6 separate regions of the Homo sapiens genome follow, and all the other regions are linked to region 1. Evidence: fine-mapped expression QTL. Tissue or cell type: whole blood. Region 1 holds a variant in brackets; each other region holds the start of a gene. Each region is shown on its reference strand, or each on the opposite one.

Region 1 (4,088 bases):
AAACAGGAATACCAAATAGGGAGTAAAGATTTTTGTGGAAGAAATTTAGTGACATGAAAAATTGTTCACAATATAATAGTAAGTGAAAAATTATAAGGTTATACACATTGTTATTAATTTTTGGGGAAAATGTATTCTTATGCTTACCCATAGAAGAAACACTAGGTAGATAAGCGCAGTAATATCAGTAGTGATTCGATGTGGGTAAGTGGGACACTGAAGCAGCTTTGGTCTCTACTCTTCAAGATTTTTCAACCTTCCTTCAATAACATGTGCTAATTTTATAATTATTAAATATATATCAAATAGGGACATTAATATTCACCTTATAGATTTGTGTTAAGAATTAAATTAGGTGAGATGATTCATGAAAAACAGTTTAGTGCCTAGCATTTAATTGGTGTTTTTGATTATTTTTATCCAGTTTAATCAGTCATCATGGACTTAGCTCAAAATGATTTTTTTGACTTGAAACAAAACCAAAAATACTACCCTTTAACTGGTGAAAATTTATCACCGTTAAGGATATTCAAAAAAAAAATGCACCGTAAGCTATGAAGGCAATTTCAAAAGAGATGTTTCTGAAATGCCTTGAGCAATGAGAGAGACAATGAAATAAGCAATTAAACTTAAGGTGACTACTTTGCAGCATTTATTTGGACCTAGAAGCTTTGGTTTGTTTGTTTAAAAAACCTGTCATTACTATAGCCACATTGGGTACACGGATAGACGGAACAATATCTAACTCAAAGCGGGTAATTAGTCTGTCAAGATAAATGCCCCCTCTTCTTCAAGCTGATAAAAAGTATCTTGTCAGGGCCTCTTGTGTCATCCCCCAAACACTGTGCGTAAGCCCTGCTGTTTTCTCTTGCAACACGCTTCATCCTGCAGAAATGCAGAGGGAAGCTTTTTGTGGGTATGGTTGGTTGAAAGACAGTTCATATTACCCCTATCTCCTTTCCTGGACTGTATATCTCTGGGGTGCTATGACCTTCTCCCCCCCCCAGGGCACATGTGCACTTGCGCGCAGGCACACACACACACACACACACACACACAAATATGTATACCCAGGGCCGGGCGTGGTGGCTCACGCCTGTAATCCCAGCACTCTGGGAGGTCAAGGCGGGCAGATCACCTGAGGTCAGGAGTTCAAGACCAGCTTGGCCAACATGGTGAAACCCCGTCTCTACAAAAATTAGCCAGGTGTGGTGGTGGGCGCCTGTAATCCCAGCTACCTGGGAGGCTGTGGCAGAAGAATCGTTTGAACCCAGGAGGCAGAGGTTGCAGTGAGCCGAGATCGTGCCATTGCACTCCAGCCTGGGCGACAGAGCGAGAGTCTGTCTCAAAAACAAACAAACAAACAAACAAAAAAACAAAAAACAAACAGAAAGAAACATGTATACCCACGCACACACAGACATACACACACGGACACACATTCTCCCCCGCCCCCACACACACACCCTCAGAGAGATACCTTATCTCTCTGGCTCTCATACACACTCCTACTTTCCCCTCTCCTCGCCTATCGATCTCCTCTCCCCTGTGCTGAGTTAGAAGCTCCTCCTATTATTTTTGTAATCTCTGTTTTAGCATTTCCCATAGAATATTGCAAACATGGAGTGCTTATCTCGCTCTCACACTGGAGTTCCTTGAGCCATCTGCCACTTTTATTAGCCTCTCAGAACGCTCATTTCTTCATCTTAGTGTTCCATTGACAAATGGGAACATAATGCCTCATTTAGAAGTTAGTTGTGGGCATTCCATTGCATAACGGAGGTAGAATTCCTGGCACATGCTAGCCACCCAATAATGGAAGCTATTATTATGATTAATTATATTATTTATTCACTTTTATATCCTGAGGGCCTGGCATAGTGTCTGATGTGTGATGAGTGTAAAATAAATTTCTGGTGAATTAATGAATTAACTCACAAGCTTACAGAATGTGGCTTCAAAATAAAAGAAGAATGTTGTTTTGTAGCGTTTATAGTAGGTGTGAGCGGCAAATCCACGTGCTTCCCCTTCTTACCCCTTTCCCCAAACAACCTATCTGGTGCCAATCCTTGGGAAAAGAAACCGTTACCATCTAGATATAGAAAGCCTATTGACTATTATTTCCATGTAGATATGGCTTAGCAAGGATAAGAGGAATTTTCTCCCTTGATTATCATCTCCTTAGGCTATGTAGTTTATTTCCCAGAGACCGGTCTTCCTTAGCCTTGTTAACCTTTATATGCTTTCTAACTCCAACAAACAATTATTGGCTG[A/C]AATAACCTGATCGAGACACAATCAGCTTCACGGCTGCCTCCAGACTCTACCCGATCTGTTAGCGCTAATCTATTCACCTCTCAGTGTTCACAAAACCTGTTAGCTGATTTGCATTCCACCTCCTATCTTTTCCCTACTTCCTTTGAGGAAGATGTTTGTGAATTATTTTAAGCCAGTTGAATCACTCTGGGAGTTAAGTGCTATTTTAAGCTTTTGAGGAACAGTTGAGAAGGAATGACTTAGGGATGTGAAGCATTTCCCAATAATATCCCACAGAAACTTCAACTTACCAAGTTTGTGGTAAATTTCAGGATATTAAGACACCCTGAAATGGGTCACTGTTCTTGGATACCAGATTCTAAGCTACCCATTGCAAAATGTCTTGTTAAAGCCATGGTGTACGGTGCAAGTGAGATCCACGAGAGGCCATCTGCTGCTTGAGAGAATGTCTTCCTTTCCAGCATCTGAATGCACTGCTTTCCTTGCTGTCTGCCTAGTTGCAGAACTTTGTCTTCTTTTATCAGGACCACTGTCTCTGTGTCCTTGTCAAACTTTTTGTCCCCTAACGGCATCCTCTCCTTCAAATATTGTGCAGCAGATCTAGGGTCCCAGGTGAGTGGACCTCCGTAAGCAGATCACAAGGTGAGCACCCTCTTGAATAATTATTCCACTTGCTTTTATGAACCTTTCCTGAGCCCCCAGCCCACCAGCCAATGTATATTTCCCTACCAAAAAACGCTACCAGTTCCAGGAAGTCTTCCCAGAGTGATAAGAACACATGCTTTATCTTATCTCAACTTTTCTAGACCTCTATGTTGATTGCCGTCATCGCATGTTGACCCTGCTGGCTCCTTATTGGTCACCCTTATATAGAAATCTATGCCTTTGTGATCAACTGTGATGTTGCATTTTGCCATCTGTATGTCCTTATCATGCTGGTTCAAAACATTCTTTTTAGTTGTAGAATGTACCCAGTTAGAATGGAAGGACCGTATTTCTTTTCTTTCTTTTTCTTTTTTTTTTTTTAAGGTGACTAATGAAACACCAAGTCATATAATTATGACTTAATGGATACTTTCTGTTGTTGCTGATGATGAAATGTCCTTTCATATTCAGACTGTATCTTCCTGTAAATCAGGTACAGTGAGTCATGGGGGAACAATGGTGGGATGTTACAGTGATGAAATCTGGAGTCAAATCTTTGTCATTAACGAACTGAAAACTTGGATAGAGTTTTATACAATTTCTTTATATACATGGAGCCAGCTGTCTTTCATTGGTTAGGGGTGAAAATAGGTCCACAGTTTATGGATTATGGAGTTTGGATAAAGATAAGTGATGTTCTGAATCGCCAAGTCTACTCCAAACTTCAGGGAAATCACCACTCCATGCATGAGGAGTGATCTCTTTTGCACTCATTTTTGCACACTGATATTTTTTTTTGCAGTGAAGGTACCAAATTTATACATTCATATGTATATATATTTAAACTGTTTTTCCTTTGATGTGGAATGCTGAGAAAATCTAACACTAAATTTTGGAGATGTTGCTGTAATCTGTAGTTTTTTGGAGGAAGAAAGATGATTGCAGTAATATTTTTGTCACTTCATTACTGTCGTTCCTGTAGTAATTGTCAATGTAGGGGTTTATATTTTATTCAGATTTATCAGTAGGAATATGGGAATAGAGATTTTAAAATTAAGAGCGAGGAGAAACCCAAGAGTGCCTTCGTATTCTAAGTAAGGAAACAGACCCTTTGAAAGGTGACGTGTTTAAGATTAGATGGCTAACGTTGTGCCAACCCAGGCCACCTG
Region 2 (4,088 bases), not on the chromosome of region 1:
TATCATGTCCCTGCCTGTCTCTGGCTTCGCTTTCACCGGTGATGACTGCTCTGCACTCCGGCTTCCAACGCAGGCCCTGCCCCACCTCTGAGCTCTTAACTCTCCTAAGACTATGGAATCCCCCTGCCACAGCCTGCAACTTCTCCAGTGGACATAGGGAATGCTATTGCCATCTAAGAGTAGAGGGGATATGGAGGGTTGAAAAAGTTGGGATTACTCAGCAGACTGGGACCACAACAGGGTTCTGGGGCCCTATCCTTCAGCCTGCAGGGAGGGGTGTGACTTCTGCTTGCCTCAGGGTCAGGCTCCATCCCAGTCTTTGGGTCTGGCTGGAATGAGCTCTAGGTATTTCAGCCAAGCCCCGTCTTTTCCAAGGGCTTACGGGGACCAGATCTGTTGACTCTCCTCATTTTCTGCACCCTGGATTCCCTAACCAGGCCACCCAGAAGAGAAGTCCCATCCTCCTGGTGATATCCTGGGAGCTCTGTGGCTCTGCCCTTAGCCCTCCTCTGACTCTCAGCATGGTGGGGGTGATAGGGAATGATGGAAGGTAACCCCCAGGAACAGGAGAAGGCCTCCAAAACTCCCAAAGCTCTATCAGAAGGATCTGTCTCCATGTTAACTTCATCCCTCCACAGGCTCTACCAGGGCCCAGCTATATCAACAGTGCCAACAAAAAGCCCCGTGCCCAGCTCTCACTCTCCCTCCCACCTCCCAAGCCGCAGTTAAATGTGAGATTAGGAGCTCCCCATGTGTAGTCTGAGGTGCAGCCACCTCCACATGCTGCGAGAAACCGGCCTATCAGTTCAGCCACAGTGGCAAGTGGGCGTGGCGCTTTGTACTGCTCTATCCAGTCTGACCCTTGATCTGGCATCAGCTTCTACCCTCCTTGCTTACTGTTTACAGCAAACAGCCACCGCTCTCCTGTACCAAATAACGTGCAACATCATGTGGACACATTTTGTGGGGAAAATGAAAGTGATGTGAGACTTTAGGGCTGATCCAGCCACCCCGGGAGGCAATGAAAGGAAGGGCCCCTCATCCCTCTTCATTCCCCTCCCAAAGCTGAAAACTCAGTAGAAGAACCAGAAAGCTCAGCCCTGGATTTATATGTCTCTTTGCTATGCCATCATAGCAGTATAAATGGTTAGTGTTAATGTCATTGTTCAAATTACGCTCTGTGTGGTGGCTCACGCCTGTTATCCCAGCACCTTGGGAGGCTAAGGTGGGCAGATGACTTAAACCCGGGAGTTCAAGACCTGCCTGGGAAACATGGCGAAACCCTGTCTCCACAAAAAAATACAAAAATTAGCTGGGCATAGTAGTGGATACCTGTAGTCCCAGCTACTAGGGAAGCTGAGGTGAGAGGACCACCTGAGCCTGGGAAGTCGAGGCTGTGGTGAGCCAGGATTGTGCCACTGCACTCCAGCCTGGGTGACCCTGTCTCAAAAAAAAAAAAAAAAAAAAAAGGTCAAATCAGGAAAAAATTTTGAAATAACAAACTTCCTTTTGCAGCTGCTCTTTTGTTCATCTTCTACCATAATCCCAGGCACTGAGTTTTTGTTTGCACTCGTTTGCCCTGGGCCACCTGGGGTGGTGGGGAAGGACTGAGGAGGGGAGGTCAGAACATGCAGTTCCTGTCCCAGCTATTACTGGCTCTGGAGCTCTGGGCAAGCTACTTCATCTTTCTGGTCCTCAGTTTCCCCGTCTGTAATAGAGTGATGTCAGTACCCACCGTGTATGGCACTGGGGAGGCAGTAAAGGTTTGGGTCAACCTGAGTGGGTCTGATCCCGATCCTGGCTCCACCACCCACTGCCTTCACCGCCCCGAGCAAGTTCCCTAACTCCTCTGGGCTTCGTTTTCCCCCTTGATGAAAGCAGGGCTGCTGGGAGGATGACATGAGACAATATCCAGGGCTGGCCAACAGTAAGTGCTTAAGACACATAGTAGCATTCCTCCTTCACAGGTTGTAAATTACAGAGCACGCCTATATTATCTTAGTAAATATTATTTAAATATCATACCATTCATAATATTTTAACAAGTTTTAATTAAGACACACGCTTCAGTACCCCTGCCCCGACTCCATACTGCGCTAACCAAGTGGGATTCTCCTCCTTGCCTGTGCGCTGAGCCACCGCTTACCCCGCGTCCCCTCGGACATGCAGCTCTGCCCATCAGGGCCACAGGCGGCCCGGTCCCACCATGGGGGTTGGGGATGGGAACCAGAGCATGCCCGTTCCGGGGCGCGCGTCTGGCCCCGCTCTAGGGAGCCGCGTCGGCGGGGCCCCACCCGGGCAATGTCCCGAAGCTCGACGCGCACTCACCCTCTTGACCAGGAAGCCCTCCTTGAGCACGCCGTCCTCCATGTCGCCGCCCGCACGCCAGGGCCACCCCAGGTGCGCCTTCCCCGCGCCTCGCGCTCCTCGGCACCCGCGCAGCCCGCGCAGTCCGCGCCCACGGCGCCCAGGAAGCAGCTCCGACGCGGCAGGGCGACGCCTCCCTGGCGCGTGTCCAGAGCCTGAGGCCCCGGGGCAGGAAGTCAGACCAAGTCGGGATTTCTGACGTGACGTTTCCACCCAAAGGTGCTCCAGGGTCGGTGGTTGGTCCTCCAGGTACAGAGCGGCCAACCCCGCCCCATCCAGGTGCGCCCCGCGCCCCTCACTGTTCCAGTCTCTCTGCTCAGCGTCCTTCGCCAGGTGCTTCCCGGGCACTTAGCGCATTGCCCTCGAGGAACGCTTATCGAATTGAACATAACCGACAGGACTCCAGGATTTGGAGCCATTCCTGAGCTCATTGCAAGTAGGAGATGGGACAGTGGGTGAGCCGAAACTGGTATGGGAATTTTATCCTGGCCTCTGATGGGGGCAGAGAAGACCTCTCAGTAACAGGAAGGTCACAGTTTTAAGGCGGCAGGCACAGTTTGCAGGGCCCCCTGTCCGCAGGATATACCCCGCTCCCTCAAAAAAGATGAAGCCGAAAATTCCATCATTAAGGACAAAATTTAAGGGGGCACCAAGGAGTCCAGTAACCTAGACAAATTATATATAGAGAGAGATGATTGGTTTTTTGGGGTTTTTTGTTTGTTTTTTGAGACAGGGTCTTTCTCTGTCACCCAGGCTGGAGTGCAGTGGTGTGATCATAGCTCACTGCAGCCTTAAACTCTGGGCTTAAGATCCTCCTGCCTCAGCTCCCCAAGTAGCTAGGACTACAGGAGTGCACCACCATGCCTGGCTGGTTTATTTTTATTTTTCGTAGAGATAGGGTGTTGCTATGTTGCCCAGGCTGGTCTTGATTCCTGGCCTCAAGCAATCCTCCGGCCTGGGCTTCCCAAAGTGCTGGGATTACAGGCAAGAGCCACCGTGTAAGACCTAGAAAAATAATATTTTAATGCATTTTTTAAAATCAAAATTAATGTCAAAAAATCCACGATGAACAAAATGCTAACATTTTAAATAGATAGGATCAACAACAATGTTCTATCAGGCCATATTGGAGCCTGGAACAGAAGGAAACTCAGTCAAATAGTACTGATTCTGTCTAACAATCCTTAGAACACAGTCACACATTTTTTTAAAATTTATTTTTATTTATAGAGACAGGGTCTCACTATATTGTCCAGACTGGTCTCGAACTCCTGGGCTCAAGCAGTCCTCCTGCCTCAGCCTCCCAAAGTGCTGGGATTGTGGGCATGAGTCATGGGGCCGGTCCATATTATTTGTGCTCCAGTTTGAAGGGCCCTGTCAGGACTCTTCACCAGGCATGGGAAAGGCCCTCAGATGCCTGTAAGGGAAGAGAAGGCTCTAGAGAGGAAGAAGGTGAACCAGCTTGTGGAAGGCGGGGGGTGCCTTTCAGAACCAGACTGAAGCCAGCTCCCAGGCCAGTCCCTGCCCTGGAGCTCTTGACACAGTGTTGCTTCTACATGTCTGTAGTAGACATATTACATCCCCCCAACCCCACTCCCACCTGCCAGCCCCAAGGAAAACTCGCAGGGTCTGGGTCACTGCGTGCCAGCCCAATGGCCCACTCTAGCCTTCTGCACTAACTGGCCTTCAGACTTCCCAGGAAGCCCCAAAGCAGTGGGGCT
Region 3 (4,088 bases), not on the chromosome of region 1:
ATTTATTTATTTAGAGACAAGGTCTCACTCTGTCACCCAGGCTGGAGTGCAGTGGCGTGATCTTCGCTCACTGCGGCCTCTTCCTCCTGGGTTCAAGCGATTCTCCTGCCTCAGCCTCCCAAGTAGCTGGGATTACAGGTGCATGCCACCATGTCTGGCTAATTTTTGTATTTTTAGTAGAGAGGGGGTTTCGCCATGTTAGCCAGGATGGTCTCGAACTCCTGACCTCAAGTGATCTGCCTGCCTTGACCTCCCAAAGTGCTGGGATCACAGATGGGAGCCACCGTGCCTGGCCGGTAACACATACTTTCCACCCTATATAAATGAAAACATGTTCACATGGAAACCTGTACACAAATGTTTATAGCAACTCTATTCACACTTGCCCCAAAGTACAAACAATCCAGATGTCCTTCCGTGGCTGAATGAACAAACTACAGTGCATCCATACAATGCAATGTGTCCACTGACACTTGTGACAACTTGGATGGAGCTCAAGAACATCATGCTGACCAAAAAAAGTCAGTCTCAAAGGTTACATACTGTATGATTCCATTTATATGACATCCTGAAAAAGGCTTAACTGTAGTGATGAACAGATAAGTGGTTGCCAGAAGTTATGGGTGAGGGTAGGGGTGGCTACAAAAGGGTAACGTGAAGGAGTGGTTTTTGGGTGACAGAAACATTCTGTATCTTAACTGCGTTTGTAGTTACACAAATCTGTTATAAAATTAATAAACTAGGCCAGATGCGGTAGCTCACACCTGTAATCCCAGCACTTTGGGAGGCCAAGGTGGGTCGATCACTTGAGGTCAGGAGTTCGAGACTAGCCTGGCCAACATGGTGAAACCCCATCTCTACTAAAATACAAAAATTAGCTAGGCGTGGTGATGCACGCCTGTAATCCCAGCTACTTGGGAGGCTGAGGCAGGAGAATCGCCTGAACCTGGGAGGTAAAGTTTGCAGTGAGCTGAGATCGCATCACTGCACTCCAGCCTGGGCCACAGAGGGAGACTCCCTCTCAAAAAAAAAAAATTTAATATACTGTACACCAAAAGGAAGTCAGTTTTGCTGTATATTGATTAAAAAATGCTACAACCAAAAAGGCAAATCAACAAAGCTTTATGAGTGTATAGGCACCTATGAATGTTGGGTTTTGAATGGAAAAAAAAAGTGACAGGAAATATACAATGTTTAATGCTGGTTACTTTGGAGGGGGCAAAAATGATTCAGTTTTTCAGTGTACGTTTTTGTATTGTTTTAATTATTTCAATTAGTATATAGTGATTTTGAAATTTGAGAAACATCTACTGAAAATGGAAAATATCTGGAAAAATATTTAAAAAGAGGAAAAAGAGTATTTCTGCTTTATTGGGTACCTGTTGACAGGGTAGTAAACAAGACAAATCCATCTCCATTCTTTTTTTTCTTTTGAGATGGAGTCTCGCCCTGTCACCCAGGCTGGAGTGCTGTGGTGTGATCTTGGCTCACTGCAACCTCTGCCTCCTGGGTTCAAGCGATTTTCGTGCCTCAGCCTCCCAAGTAGCTGAGACTACAGGTGCCCGCCACCACGCCCGGCTATTTATCTCCATTCTTATGGAGCACAGCGTGGTGGAGTTCAGTCCACACGCTTACAGGTGGCTTATCTGCAAAATGTGTCTAAAAAGAAATTTTATAGGATAAATATTTTGTACATGTTTGAAACAGTGCTTGGCACAAATGAATAAATGTAATGCAAGCTGCTATTAATACATCATCTCCGAATTGGGAGAATCATTGCGATCACATCGTTGTGATTACACAAAAGCCTCTGTCATGTAATAGGGCTCAGTAAACGTCAATTTCCATAGCATTTCGAGCCTGGATACTGAAATATGGGGCAAAAAGCAGGAACATGCCCCTGGTTTGGCTCTTGCCTTCTTGCATTTCCTGGGTTTCCTCATTTATCTTTTTTTTTTTTTTTTTTGGCCTTGTTATCTTTCTACCTTCAGGGAAGCCTCTCCCTTCTTCTCCTCCCTAGAATGACCTATCACCCTCCTTCAGGACCTAGATGCAGGGCGTTTCTATCTTAGGCTGACACTTGACTCCTTGCCTACATCTATAGCTTGGCACAGAGAGATTCACGCACCCTCAAGAGTGTGGGTGAGACATATACAGCCTGTTAGACCTGAAGGTGAGCCCAACCTGGGAAAATCGTGACCTCAGAGCAGGGCAGGATGTGAAAGGTTTTGGAAAGGAGATAGCCCTGCAGGGCAGGAGGGATTTTTAAGGGGAGGAAGTGGGTTGGGGGAAATACCCAGTGAGGAGGGAAACAGATATGTAAATTCTACCCTTTTCTCTACCCAGGCAGATGGCTCTTCTTAAGGCCAATAAGGATCTCATTTCCGCAGGATTGAAGGAGTTCAGCGTTCTGCTGAATCAGCAGGTGAGTCCAAGCTTTCCATTTCAAAGGACTGGCCTGGAGACTGGGGGGTGCCGGGGAAGTGGAGGAAGAGGATAATTGGAGCTGGTGAAGTAATGGTGGAGTTGATGGAAACAACGAGAGACACGGGATACAATGCAGAGGAAAGAGAATGTGAGAGTTGGTGCTGTGGCACTATTCTAGTATTCCCGAATCCCATTGCTGACCACATTCTCCCTTGCCAACTGCCTCTCCGCAACCCCCCAGGTCTTCAATGATCCTCTCGTCTCTGAAGAAGACATGGTGACTGTGGTGGAGGACTGGATGAACTTCTACATCAACTATTACAGGCAGCAGGTGACAGGGGAGCCCCAAGAGCGAGACAAGGCTCTGCAGGAGCTTCGGCAAGAGCTGAACACTCTGGCCAACCCTTTCCTGGCCAAGTACAGGGACTTCCTGAAGTCTCATGAGCTCCCGAGTCACCCACCGCCCTCCTCCTAGCTCAGGGACCCAGCCCCTCCTCTCTGAGAAACTCTGACCTTCATGTCCTTAGGCTGTGCTCCTGCCACTCTACCCTGACACCTCAATAAAGACCAGTGCTGGTTTTGTTGGACTTCCTGGCTTCTCTTTCATGGTCTGTCCTGACATGTGGAGGCACTCGGTCCCTTTCCTTCCGCCCTCCTTCTTAGATATGCTCTTGGAAGCTTAATTCCTTACAGCAGAGGTTAGCAGCCTTGAGTGACCACCGGGCAGCGATTCTAAACTAAAACAGGCTGAACGAGGGCCAGGAAGGCGGGACTAGAGAGAGTGCAGAGCTGCAGGGGAGGGGGTGGCAGAAACAAGAAAGGGGGATAGAAGTCCTCCAGACATTGTCCTGTGACCTGCTTGTCGAGGAGGAAACTGTTGGAAGTCTCCCAGTCTTGTTCATCCTGCGCCAGGTCCACCGCCTCGACTTTTCAATCCCCTGTCCTTAGCCCCAGCTCAAACTACATTCTAGGATCTTCGGACTCTGACTACCGCAAAATACCTCCCCGGAGCCCCAGGCATCGCAGGAATTTAGAGTTGGAAGGGATCCTGGGAACCCTTTAGCGCGCCCCTTATATTTCAGGAGGGGAAGCCACTTCCCTTTGGCTCCAACATCCCTGGGCGCAGATGCCAGGATTGGGAAGCAGAGGAATCCGCCTTCCCCCCACCCCAAGCTTCTCAGATCAATTCCCGGTCTAGCTCCCTTTCTCCCAGACCTCCAGACTCGAAGCCTCTATTTTAGGGCTCTGGGCGGAACCAGGGACGGGCCAGACTCAAGAGCTTTTTAAAAACGAAATGAAGGTGTTAGACCCGCGGCGCAGTCTCCAGGAAAAGCCTCCACGCGCAGAGGGGAGGGCCCTCCGGGGGAGGGTGCGCGGGGCGGGGGCGCGCGGGGGGAGGGGGTTCCCGGGGTGCTGAGCGGGGGCGGGGGTGCGCGGGGCGGGGGCGCGGCTAGGAGGCGCCGCACAGCAATCAGACGCGGCTCAGGGTGCGCGCGGGGAGCTGGAGGGCGCAGTTCTGGACCTTTTCGGTGTTCTCTCTAACGCGGGAAAAGTTTGGGGCCCAGAGGGATTGCTCCTCGTTCCAACCTCCAGCAAGCTTTCCTCTGGGACTTGTGAACCGACTGTTGTTTTGTAGGTCTCTGCAGCCTGGATCAGGGTGG
Region 4 (4,074 bases), not on the chromosome of region 1:
TCCGGCAAGGAAAAATCCTGGGTGGGGCCCCAAGATTTTTGAGGAGACTGAGACTGAAATATTGATAGAAAAGTCAGAAAGAGAAACTGGGAGGCGTGTACATCAAGGGACCAAAAGATGGTGTATTTAAGCACTCAAACACAAAATAATGATAATGATCATCAACGTAGTTTTTTATTAATAAAATGAAAATAATAAGATGAGGAATAATGATAATGACAGACAAATATGGGAGTGCACGCACACCAAAGGTCTTTTTCCAAACCCCAGCCTTCCACTCTGTCCACCTTCCTGACCTTTAATACACAACCCAGCCCCTGTTCCCTTCTGAAATCCCAAGCTTTTCAAAATGACTCAAAGATACCGAGATTGAGGGCGAGGAGCTGAGGATGTGTGGAATAGGGTGGGGCTGGAACTCCAGACCTGGACCTGTATTATATTTGCAAAGGAGGCAAATATAACCCAGAAAGGCTAGGGAAGATGGCAGCAGAGGAATGAGAAAAGCTGAAGGATGGAAAATGTAAAAAATGAGGACAGAAAGAGGAGTTGAGGAAAGCCAGCCAAGAATAGAGGGCCAGGTGCCTGACTCAGATAAGACAAGAGCAGGGTTGTCTGGGAAAGATAGGGAAAGAGACCAGAGGTGGAAGGGCAGAAGAGAGTCAGTGAGGAGTGGAGAAGAGGTGAGAGAAGAATGGGAGCGATTCGAGTTATAATTGGTTGTGAAGGAGGGGTCTAGGTACAGATGACTGAGGACGGATGAAGAGAAATAGAAGGACCAGGCGAATAAAAGTGAGGTGAGACGGGCGAATAAGAGAGGTAGAAGATGGAAGAGAGCTGGAAGACAGCAAAGGAGACCAGGGGGCCTGACTCCCCCCGGCTCACAGCACGGGGCCAGGAAGGGAGGCACCCGGCAAGGGTCACAAGTGTCAATCTGGCGGGACAGAAGGCTGGGCCGCCCTTTCTGCCCTCCCATCCCTCCTCAAGGCCATCCAGAGAATGTGGATGGAGGATGAGAGGGGGAAATCCGGCGTGGTGTGGAAGGAGCGCCCGAACCCTCTTCCTCTTCTTTAAGCTTTTGGTTTCTCAAATACCTGCCCTATCTTCCCATCTGCTCCCCTCACCCCACCCCTTGGCAAAATCCCAGGGCTTTTTTTGGGGTCAGTAGGATTCTGGCCACCTCTCCAGTCCGCCCCCAAAAGCCAGACTCCACATTCGCAGGCAGTAGGTTGGGATTTGGAAAGGTGCCTCCCCGCAGGAACCCCACCCCTTCCCACCTCCTCGCCCCACTCTTTCTCCGCGGCCGTCAGTCTCTCCATTTCCCCCTCCTGGTCTCGTCCTCCCTCCCGACTCCCTAGCTCTCCCTCCCCTCGCTTTCATCCTCCTATCCCCACCTCTCCAACCTCCTCTTTCATCCCCCTCCCCTCTCCTCTCCTCCCCGCTCCCGCCTGCCCCACCCCTGGGAAGCCCCTCCCGTCGGGCAGCGCCGCCTTATAAGCGGGTTCCCTTCCCGGGGGCGGCAGCGGCTGGTCGGCGGCAGCTCTGCTGGTGCGGGGGCGGCGAGCCCGGGATCGAGCTACCGCGGCCGAGCGCGCCGGCCACCGCCTGCACCGCCCTTCCGCCCGCCCTCCGGACGGCCGCAGCCCTGCGGGTCTCCGCTCCAGACCCACCCCCGCCCCACCCCGCGCGCCTCTGCCGCCTCTTCCAGAGACCCAGCTTGCCGAGCGGCCGCCGCTGCCGCTGTCGCCGCCGCCGCCGCCACCGCGCCAGGTTCCGGCCGCGGCCACCCTCCGCCGTCCAGGGCCCCTCCGTCTCGGCCCCGGGACCCCGGCTCCCCGCCAGCCCCGGCCCCGGCCCCGGCACCATGTCGGAGAAAAGCGTGGAGGCAGCGGCCGAGTTGAGCGCCAAGGTACGGGCGGGGGCGGCGGCGGCCCGGACCTCGCGCAGCCCTGGGGCCCGGCGCGGTCCTTCGCCCCAGGCCGCCCCCGACGGCCCCGCGCGGCCCTTGCGCCCGGGTCCTGGCGGACCCCACTGCGCCCTCCCACCGCTCCCCGGCCCGGAGCTCCTTTCCCGGCTCCGCGCGGCTAGCGCCAGCGCCCTCTAGCTGCCCTGCGCGCACCACGGCGCCCGGCCTCGCCGCTCCGGTCGCGCCGTCCCCCGCAGCCGTCCCCACCCCTCTTCGGCCCCACCTCGCTGACCGGATCCCGTCCGGCTTCCCGTCCGAACGCCCCGAGTCTCACTTTGCCGCGCCCCCTCCCTGCGCCCCGCTGCCGCGTCTTTGCTTGCAACCTGACCTCACCTTTCCTCGCTAAGCGGTTTGAGATCCTCAAGTGTAAACAGGACTCTCCCTGGAGGCTGCTCCTCCGGGCCCCTCCCCGCGGCCCGACCGTCGCTCGCTTCTCTCCCCGGACGGCGGCCGCCTCTGTTTTCTCGTTCCCTCCCCTCAGCTGGCTTTCAGCTTTCTTTTCTCTTCATCGTCCCCTTCCCGCATACACACTGAAAGAATCTCGAATTCCTAAAAATTAGAAGCGGGGCAGGACTAGCCTTCGAAAAAGCCGAGGCTGGGCATTGCATGGCATTGCGTCGAGCTGTCCTCGCCCTCATCAGCTCCCTTCCCCGGCCCCATCCGTTCGCCCTTGCCTCTCTTCCAGCCTTCCTCTAATTTCCCCAGGGAACCTGCGGAGTGTCGCTTTGGGAAATTAACGCGGCCGGGGTTTGGGGGCTGGGAGCCCTATCTTGTGTGTGTATGTGTATGGCGGGGGGGGGGGGCGCGGTGGTTGCTGAGGGGCCGTCACACAGGTCTCCCGGAGGCCCGCGGAGTGAAACGGGGGGAGCCAATGGGATTAACGGCGGTGGGAGAGGGGCTGTGTGCGATCTGCCAAGGTGCGCCCGTGTGGCCCTCCGGCGGGCTGTGCGGTGGCATGTGACTTCACTGAGTAGGTGTCTTTGTATGTCTGAAATCCAGCGAGTGTGTGGGACTGCCCGTGTCAGTTACATGTGTGCATGTGGAGACGTAGATGTTCTGGAGCCATGTTGTCGCTTTGTGAGTGCTGAGTGGCTCCGCTGTGCTCCCGTGCTGTCTCAAGAGTGTGGACCAGAATGGCCCAACGCTGGGCCATGTGTCTCCCATCGCGTGGGTGCTCCTCTCTAACTGTGTCTGTGCATGGCTGTCGGCCGGTGTCGGTGTGTGTGCCTGTGTTGAGTAAATGAGGCCAGAGGGCTGCTTAGCAGAAGACCTAGGGCCCAGGTCACATATTCTCCTGGAAAAGGGATCATGGAAGGACAGTGACCAGAAGGACAGAACAGGGGAGGAGAGGGCCCGGCCCCTTGAACTTTGGTCTCTGGTATTCTCCCTCCCTGCATCAGCCCAGATGGGAAAGTCAGGCCAGGGCCATACAGACTTTTGGTGCTGGGGCCCCCAGAGAGAAGCTGACCAGCTCTTTGCTCTCCTGGCCCAGGACGTAGGGAAGAGCCCCCTAGGTAGTGGAAATGCCATACTGACCTTGTGGCACAGAAATGAAGACCTCACGGTGGGGTGGAAGGGCACCCTCTCTGGAGTGAGAGTGAAGAGTTCTGAGCTACCCTTAAAGGGAGAAGGGAATTGAGTGCCCCCCAGGGCAGCCGTTCTGCACCAGGCTCCTCTCCTATCCCCTATCCTGTTCCAGAAAGGACCCCCCCGCCCAGGGTGATCTCACACAGGAGACTTCCATTCACATGGAATCAGATACACAGCGTGGCACACCAACACCAGATCAGATCACACAAGGACACCTACCGTGTTACACTGTGCCTGCCAAGGAGTGGGTGGGGAGAGCACTGGAATCTGAATTGGGAGGCTAGTGTAGTGTCCAGAAGGGACTCAGATGTGCCATATCAGCACAGGACGTCAACCTATGCCTGCTAGGATCTTGGGGTGAAGGAGAGGGGCTGGCTGGTGGGAGGGTCTCCTAGACTGGTCCCTCCCTCTTCTCCATTCCTATCCCACCCCAGTCACAGACCTTGTTTGTTGCTCTCTCCTTGTTTCCCACGCCTGCTACTCTTCCCCTCCTTGTTTTCTCTTCTACTTCACCTACATTT
Region 5 (4,077 bases), not on the chromosome of region 1:
CATATACTCCCCAGGTCTACTACCTGGCTCTCCATATCATGGCTGCTTTCTGCTTAGTAATTGGAGACCCTCTTCCCTTATTTATTTCAAATGTGAGTTCCGTCCTACAGAATTTGCTTACCTTCTTGATGGTCACAAATTCATTCTCTGCATTTGTCCGCTTGTTGATTTCATCCTCATACCTGCAGGAAAGCAGAAACAATTAGGAGATTCAGAGGTGGTAAGACCTGAAGTCCAGCATTCTAAACTAAAGGTGGCATTGCCTATCACTGCCTTTCTATTATGAACCTAGGACATATTGGCCACTACTTTCTACTGAGCAATAAAACCACTAGACTATTTCCATCTCCTGAGAAAATGAAGATTTCTGAAAATGTCAAACTGATGTGCCTCTAACCTAAGAAAAGACATAGCTACATGCTGCTTCATGATCTTAGCTTATTACTTTCTGGAACTCTTTTACAGCAAAAGTTAAGAACTGCCCAGACAGGGTCCCTTACTTGTTCCGGTAATCCTCCACCATGTCCTGCATGTTCTTCAGTTCCGAATCCAACCGAGATTGATCACTCTTCAGTTGGTCCACTCTCCTTCGGAGATTGTTGATGAATGACTCAAAGTAGGGCTCTAAATTATGGGTTCTAGTGGAGGTATCTACCTGCTGCAGCAGCTCCCATTTTGTTTGCAGTACCTGGTTCTGCTGCTCCAGGAACCTCACCTAAAAACACAAGACCCCTTTACTCCTGATGCATAAATGGAGTCTCATAGCCATGGAGAACTGTGCCTCATTTGGAAAAGAACCTCAATTCCTATCTTCTGACCATGACAGAGAAATAGGAAGAAGATGATCAAGTTAATATCATCTGCATAATAAAACCCAACTTGTTAATTCAGAGAGGGCTTGGAAGGGAGTAACTAAACAAATACCAATAGCAAAGCGCATACAGAATTATTGCAATTATGTTTTGAAATAGGTGCATGGTATTTAAGAGATTTGCCTTCCAAAATTTTGTTAGGTATATTACCATAAAAACTGGTTTGCATCCCCAGGACACACACACATTTCAAAAGTATATCAGGAAAATTCAAAATTGGATTTGAAATTTGTTGTGGATAACCTTGGATTGGCACTATTAATGATTAAGCAAAAAATTAAAAAAATGGTTTATCTGAGTTTTTTAGAGCTGATTTTTGGAGATATTAGTATAAAAAAACTCTAGCCTCATCCAGTACCAATGTAAAATTATTAGAAGGCAGAGCTCCCCTCTGACAGCAAAAGATGTTTGGCACTGACTGACCACATGTTTTCTGCTACAATAACACTCTATACTATGTTCACACTCAACTCCCTTTCTATGGTTAGGAAGACCTTTCCAGGGTTCTCACTTGCACCCTGGAAAGTTCAGTTAGCCCCATTTCTATTATCTTCATTCAACAGATATGAGTCCCAATTCCGCTCAAGAGCTGAATAAAAAGCACTTAAATGTTAATGTCACACTGACCCACCTTTAGGTCGACCACGAACCCTTTGTCAAAGAGAGAGTCATTAACACCATTCACAAGCATACATCTAACATATCTCCTAGGAGACCATTCCACAAAACATCCTTTTAATCATGTAAACATGGAAACTTGAGGTTCAAACCTACTGTGTTTTGACTGCACCAATCCCAAGTGGACCAGCGGCAGCCCTACCAGTGCAATGAGAGAGAAACTCACCTTGTCAATGAAGGAGGCAAATTGGTTGTTGAGTGACTTGATTTGCTCCCTTTCTCGAGACTTCACCTTTTGGATCTCAGGGTCAATCTCCACATTGAGGGGCTGAAGAAGGCTCTGGTTGATAGTGACTTCTTGTATGCCACCAGGAGGGCAGACAGGACCATAACCACCCCCATATCCACCACCCCCAAAGCCACCTCCACCAAAACCACCACCACCACTGCCAAAACCACCAAAGCCACCACCCCCAATGCCACCTCCACCAAAGCCACCACCACCAAAGCCACCACCACCAAAGCCACCACCACCATAACCACCACCAAAGCCACTACCACGTCCACCTCCTCTAGCCACACTTATGGAGATGCTTTTACTGCCACCAAGGTTAACAAGACTCCGACTTCCAAATCCACCACCAGCACCAAAGCTACCACCACCACCACCACAGCTTGAAAATCTCCCACCACCTCCTCCACTGCGGCGTGTGGAGCTGCTGGTGGTCCTGCGCTGGTAGTTGATGATCCCAGCAGAGCCAGAGCTGAAGCCCCCTCCACTTCGGTACCCAGACCTGGAACTAAACTGTCGACTCATGTTGACTTAGAGAAAAGTAGGAGCAAGGTAGAGTAAGGGAAGGAGCTAAACACTCCTCTACCCCAAGCATAGAGACTTCCCCTTATATACAGGGAAGAAATTGGGCTTGGTCTTCTAGAGTCAGCGGAGATGCAGTGCCTGTCAAGGGTTTGGCTTGCCTGCAGCCATACAAGATTTTTACGAGCCTCAACAATACGATAAACACTACACACCTAGCTCCCAGGATGGGCTCTCAAAATTGCTGTGCATGCAAGATTGGTTCATGTGGTAATTATTTTATCACACAAGATCTTCCTTCAAGCATTTGTGGCTTTGGGAAAACAGGACCCCACATCTGATACCTGGTGTTTCTTGGTAGGATTTCATAACCCCCATCAAAAAGGCATGAAAGTTTCTATTCTCACCTTGCCTTTGTGAGCTACCAAGCACACTCTCTTACCATGCACAGCAGGTGCAATTCCCCGTGCTTGGATCTCAGAAGGAGCTCTCTGGCCCATTTCTAAGATCTTCTTTCCAAACTCCAGAGCTCACTCAGTTACAACCTGACAAAGAGAAAGGGCTTTAATAACTAAAAAATTAAAAGGTCTTTCATAAATATAAGCTTTATAAATATACCACAGTGATTAATTAAAGGAAGAGAAGCTGTCATTGAACAAGATGGATGAGTGGGTGGTCTGGAAGAACCAGAAGGGAGAGACATTTTTTTTCTCTGTTTCTCAGTTATTCCTTTTCTTGTTTCTTTTCTTCAAAGATAGAGCAGGAGACAGACACCAGCAATAGAAAACAGGTAGCAATGGATAGCATGCAAACGCCCTTGAGTGAAAAAGCCCACAGAGCAGTGAGACGAGTAAATAGAAGCTCTAGGACATTTTGTAAAGCACAGGGGTGGAGGTGAGGCTTGATAGGTGATTCAAGCCTCACACTGGACTGCAAAGAGAGAGAGATAAATGCAGATTTGGAAGGGAAGACAATGAGAGGTGTCTGGAGAGCCTTATATGAGAAGTTTAAATTGTTTCTGGAGGTGATAATAATGATAATACCTAACATGTATCAAAAACTGACCATGTACCAGGCACTGTTCTACGTAGCACATATGTATTAACTTGCTTAATTTTCACAACTTTGAGATAGATGCTATTTTTCTCCCCATTTGTAAAATGAGGAAGCAGAGACACAGGGGTTGAATAACGTGATCAAGTCTACACAGTTGGTAAGTGGGGTGCCTGCGATTTGAAGCAAGAATACCTAGCTATCATGTGCAAGATCCTAAACAGCATGTTGTACGACAGCACAGCAGCCGAATTCAAGTCATTCTGCCTGCTGTGTGTAAAGCCAGACAGCACAGGAAGCGCCCCACCACAGAGAGCTCTGAGGGCAGAAGGCCTGTTTTATCACTCTGAGTCCTTGGCTCCTGGCACATGCAAGTCTTGGAAAATGTTTCTTCAATTCACACTGAGAAGGAGATTTTGGTGGCACAGAGTTTAGTGAGGAGATTTTACTTCCATCCAAGTGCAAGAGTACCCAGCATGCATTGCAATGGACCAGGAAACCTCAGGGGTCTTCCTGGAGAGCAGCACTTGATCAATATCAGTGGATAATAGTGGCACTGAGATCTGGACACACTAGAAGCCCAAGCAGACTTTCATTCGAAGACTTCTTAGAAGCCTGGCATGGTCCCCGGGCCTGCACATAAACACAGAATTGAAGACTCAAAGGGGAGAAGCCAGCTCTAACTTCAGCTGGCTCCAAGTAACTCTGTAAGTGGCAAAC
Region 6 (4,088 bases), not on the chromosome of region 1:
CTATGAACGAGGATGAGCTGGCTCTAGAGACCATCTCCTGAAACCACTGCCACTTAAGTCAGAGGTGTCTTTGTATTCGTTCTCCTTATTACTGATGAGGGTTCAGCATGGGGCGTGGCACACCAGCAGGAGCTCAATAAATAGGAATTCATGGGCTTGCTCTCTTTCCTCCTCAAATCTCCCATTGCATATGAGGACACTGAGGCTCAGAGGAGTGAGATAAGAATGGTAAGATCCCTCCAGGGTGGGCCAGTGGGCAAGCTGACCCCACTGACCTGGGGCTCCACCCTTGGCCTCTGCCCTTTGTAGGTCTCAGTCTCCCCATCTGTAGACTAGGTGGGCAGGACAGCTCCTTGTCCCACGTGTGCATGTGTGTCAGATGCTTTCATATAGAAAAAGTGCTCAGGTTAGGTACAAGTCTATGTGAGGTCTATGAGACACTGTGGTTGTTGTCATTAATATTTGGAGGAGGTGGGGCAGGGCAAGAGTGTGGGGACTGGGGTGCGGAGGCCTAGCCACATTCTGGTTGTCCCCTGCTGAGGGCTGAGGGCAGAGCCACAGGCTACATCAATCCACATCCTCCCATCCTACCTGCATGGGCACCACATGCCCAGGGTGTGATCCAGTCTGCCTGGACCTTCTTCTGAGTCTGTCTCTGAATATCCCTCTGTCTCTGTCTCCCTTCTCAGTTCTCCACTTCTGTCTTTGGCCTCTTTCCCTTTCAGGTTTTATCTGTCACTTCTGTCCATCTCTGTCTCTCATTCTCTCTTTGCCTCTCTCTATATGTCTTTAATGGTCTCTGGTTCTCCCCGGGTGTCTCGCCCTCTTTGTCTCTCCTTTTCTTTTGTGCCCTCTCTCTGCCTCTTTCCACGTCTGTCTCCTTCTCTATTCATCTCTGTCACTCTCTTTCTCCCCATTTCCATCTCTCTCCGCCTATCTCTGTTTTTGTTTGTCTCTCTGCCTCTGTCTCTCCCACTCCACCCCTTTCCTTTCCTACCCTATACCACTCCTCGAGGAATCATCCCTGGCTCCCACCTCAGTTTCCCGCCTCCAAGGCAGCATGGCGGGCAAGAAGTTGAGGCCACTGTCCCTGGGTGTTCCTACCCCCACACCCTCACCCCAAGACAGCCTGTTACTGCGGCGCCAACAGCCACGGTCGCCTACATCTGATAAGACTTATCTGCTGCCCCAGGGCAGGCCGGAGCTGGCGTAAGCCCCAGTGGGGCGCTAAGTGAGTGTGCCCCTGCCTCCCGCCAGCACTGGCCTGGCCTGCAGGCTTAGCCTGGGTCATCAAGGTATCCCACAGGCTCTAGTTCAAATCCAGCAGAACCTCTCTGAGCCTCACTCTTCTCACCTGCAAAATGGGTACAGCCACATCCCTTCTCTCCCTGCAGCCAGGAAGACGCACATACACAGGAGTCTAGCCCACACCGGCCCCGCACAAATTAAGGGCTTTACTCTCTGAAAAGCCCAGTGAAGTCATGAAACCATATCTGCTATTTTCATTTATCTTGGTTTCAGCCTATTTTGCTTGTCTGGACACTACAGTCCACGGGAGCCTAGGTCGAGCGAGGTCCAAGAATCCCCAGGGTGGGCAGGGAGGGTGGAAGAGGGCCTCCAGTGCCCAAGAGGTGCCCCACAAGCATGGGACCCGCCCCCTCCCCTGGACTGCCCCACCCACTGGGGCACCAGCCACTCCCTGGGGAGGAGGGAGGAGGGAGAAGGGAGGGAGGGAGGGAGGGAGGAAGGGAGCCTCAAAGGCCAAGGCCAGCCAGGACACCCCCTGGGATCACACTGAGCTTGCCACATCCCCAAGGCGGCCGAACCCTCCGCAACCACCAGCCCAGGTCAGTCTCAGCCCCCAGAGAGCCCCCACCAAGGCAACCCTGGGCCTGCTGCCCCTACCCTTATGCTTGCTCCAGGCTCCCCAACCCACAGCTGGTCCCCAAAGTGTCAGCCAGCCCTGAATCCCTTTACAGCTCCTCCAACCCACCTGTCTTTCCAACTCCCATTTCTACCCCAAATCTACCCCCTAAACCCCACCTCTTTCTGCCCTCTCATCCACTCCGTCCAAGATATCTATATCCTCTGGATCCCTTCACTTTGCTCGCTATACCCCTAGGTCTGTCTCCCCTAAACACTAACTCTGTCTCCCAAAACATGACTTTATCTCCCCAAATCCTTTCCCTGTCCCATATCTGATTTCCACTCACCCAAACTTGTCTCTGTCTCCCTGACTTCTCCTCCAAACCTCACTTTTCTGCTCCCAAACCCCTTATCTGCTCTACAACGCCTTGTCTTTGCCCCACTCTCTCTGAGCCCCCAAACCTGTCTCTGATCTGCCAAACCCTAGCTCCATCCTCTTACCACCATCTCTGCCTTTCAAACCCACTCTTTGTTCCCAATGACTTCTCTCTGATCTCCGCAAACCATTTATCTCTCCCAACTCCCTGCCTGCTCAGTAAAATATCTTTGTCACTTCAAACACCAAGTCAACTCCCCAAAATCTGTTCTGCCGCATGAACCCTCATGTCTGCCTTCCCCAAACCGTATCTCAGCCCTAAAACACATCTCATTGTCTCCCTGAATCTCTCCAGCTCCAAGCCTTTCTCTACTCCAATTCTATCTTGGCTTCTCAAACTCCCCTTTACTAGCCACATTCTGTCTGCCCAAACAGATCTTTGACTCCTAAACTCCATCTCTCCTCCAGAAAAACCCTTGAACTCCCCAGACTTTTCTATGACCCTCAGAATCTGACTCCCACACTACTTCTCAACTTTATTTCTGACTCTCAAACTTCGCCCCGATCCCCCAACCTCGTCTGTTTTCACAACCTATTCCTGAGCCCAAAATGTGTCTCTGAACTTCCAAGCTCGTCTCTGCTCCACAACCCCGCCCATATCTGCCTCCCCACAAACTCCATGGCTACACCCCAAACCTCTCTGACTTAACCCCATATCTGACCTTCAAATTCCACCTCTATCTCCCCCTAAGCCCCATATCTGCCCCCTAGACCTTATATCTGCTCCCTTCAGCCCGGTGAGACCCTCCCTTGAGGGCTGGGATTGGAACGTTACCTGGGGTGAGGGGCTGGGGCCGAGGGAGAGTGGAGGGTGCCAGCTGCTGCCTGCTGCCGCCGTTGGGGCAACACTTACTCTAGTGGGGCAGCTGATAAGGAGCTTTCATATCCCCCAGCCTCGAGATAAACTTTATCTCTGTCCGGAGAGTGATAACTGGGGGTGAGGAGGCTGGGCCCCTGCCATGGGAGGGGTGGGCAGCCCTGGACTCACCAACGTGTGAGGTGCAGGGGTTGGGGGCAGTGGGGCTGGAGGGAGATCATGGTGGGTAAGGTGGAGTTGAGGGGATGAGGGAATAGTGGTGAAAGAGTGAGCAGAAGACACACAATGAGACAGGGAAGAGAGGGAGAAACAGGGAGAGATGGGAAGAGAGAGACAGAGACACAGAGACAAAGAGCAAGAGACAAAAGAGACATGAAGAGAAAGGAAAAACAGAGAGAGAGAAACTCAACGAGTAAGAGACAGAGACAGACAGATGGCCGGAGAAAAAGAAGGAAAGACCCGGGAGCAGAAAAGGAGATAGAAATGCAGAGATACACGCAGGTAGCACTGTGAAGAGGCAGAGACTAACACAGAATTAGAGACAGAGAGGAAAGAGATGGAGACCAAGATGGGGAAGCAAAACACTCTCTTCAGAGAGCAACAGCAGGCACCCTGGGGCTGAGAAGGTGTTGGCGGTGGGCACACTTGTGGCCCATCTCTTTCCTAGCATAACTCCCAAGCCTGGGCCTGCCCCTTAGCCTGTCTATACCATGGGTCATGTAAGCAGGAGTGAGGGGCAGTTTGAAGACAGCCTTCTAGTCTAGCCCTGTCACTCCACCCTACAGACACAGAAACAGAGCAGGCCAGCACAATAGGGCCAGGGCCAGCATTCCAGGCTCCTTATCCTGAGCTGCATGTGGCTGGGTACGGTCAGGGGTATGGGACTAGTAAGAGGCACGTGGACATAAGGTCAGAGGGCCCAAAGAGAGGGAAACAGAGGGAACAGACAAACAAGCAGGAAGAGTGGGA

Evidence for each region. PIP is the estimated chance that this variant, and not a neighbour inherited with it, causes the effect.
Region 2: it holds the start of PLEK2, and the variant in region 1 is fine-mapped to the expression of PLEK2 in whole blood (TOPMed, PIP above 0.99).
Region 3: it holds the start of AHSP, and the variant in region 1 is fine-mapped to the expression of AHSP in whole blood (TOPMed, PIP above 0.99).
Region 4: PTMS starts here. The variant in region 1 is the best candidate, but not a certain one, in a credible set for the expression of PTMS in whole blood (TOPMed, PIP 0.61).
Region 5: it holds the start of KRT1, and the variant in region 1 is fine-mapped to the expression of KRT1 in whole blood (TOPMed, PIP 0.96).
Region 6: it holds the start of GATA1, and the variant in region 1 is the best candidate, but not a certain one, in a credible set for the expression of GATA1 in whole blood (TOPMed, PIP 0.86).

What each region holds. Positions count from the first base shown.
Region 1 is chr6:139,517,283-139,521,370 of GRCh38, forward strand. No RefSeq gene overlaps it. Among named protein-coding and RNA genes, the nearest start is that of LINC01625, 45 kb to the left of the region's middle. RefSeq lists a cis regulatory region at 1,336-1,812. The variant A/C (reference allele first, on the strand shown) is at 2,274.
Region 2 is chr14:67,409,690-67,413,777 of GRCh38, forward strand. PLEK2 (pleckstrin 2) reads right to left here and starts at 2,476. Exons shown (of 9, transcript NM_016445.3): 1 at 2,329-2,476. The coding sequence starts at 2,370. It also overlaps a transcript of GPHN not described here.
Region 3 is chr16:31,525,790-31,529,877 of GRCh38, forward strand. AHSP (alpha hemoglobin stabilizing protein) reads left to right here and starts at 2,111. Exons shown (of 3, transcript NM_016633.4): 1 at 2,111-2,173; 2 at 2,347-2,425; 3 at 2,669-3,014. The coding sequence starts at 2,351. The coding sequence ends at 2,902.
Region 4 is chr12:6,764,845-6,768,918 of GRCh38, forward strand. PTMS (parathymosin) reads left to right here and starts at 1,519. Exons shown (of 5, transcript NM_002824.6): 1 at 1,519-1,906. The coding sequence starts at 1,862. RefSeq lists silencers at 1,384-1,713, 1,824-2,323.
Region 5 is chr12:52,678,042-52,682,118 of GRCh38, forward strand. It overlaps KRT1 (keratin 1), which reads right to left and starts at 2,366. Exons shown (of 9, transcript NM_006121.4): 1 at 1,717-2,366; 2 at 501-715; 3 at 122-182. The coding sequence starts at 2,307.
Region 6 is chrX:48,784,799-48,788,886 of GRCh38, forward strand. GATA1 (GATA binding protein 1) reads left to right here and starts at 1,792. Exons shown (of 6, transcript NM_002049.4): 1 at 1,792-1,847. RefSeq lists cis regulatory regions at 1-479, 919-2,039.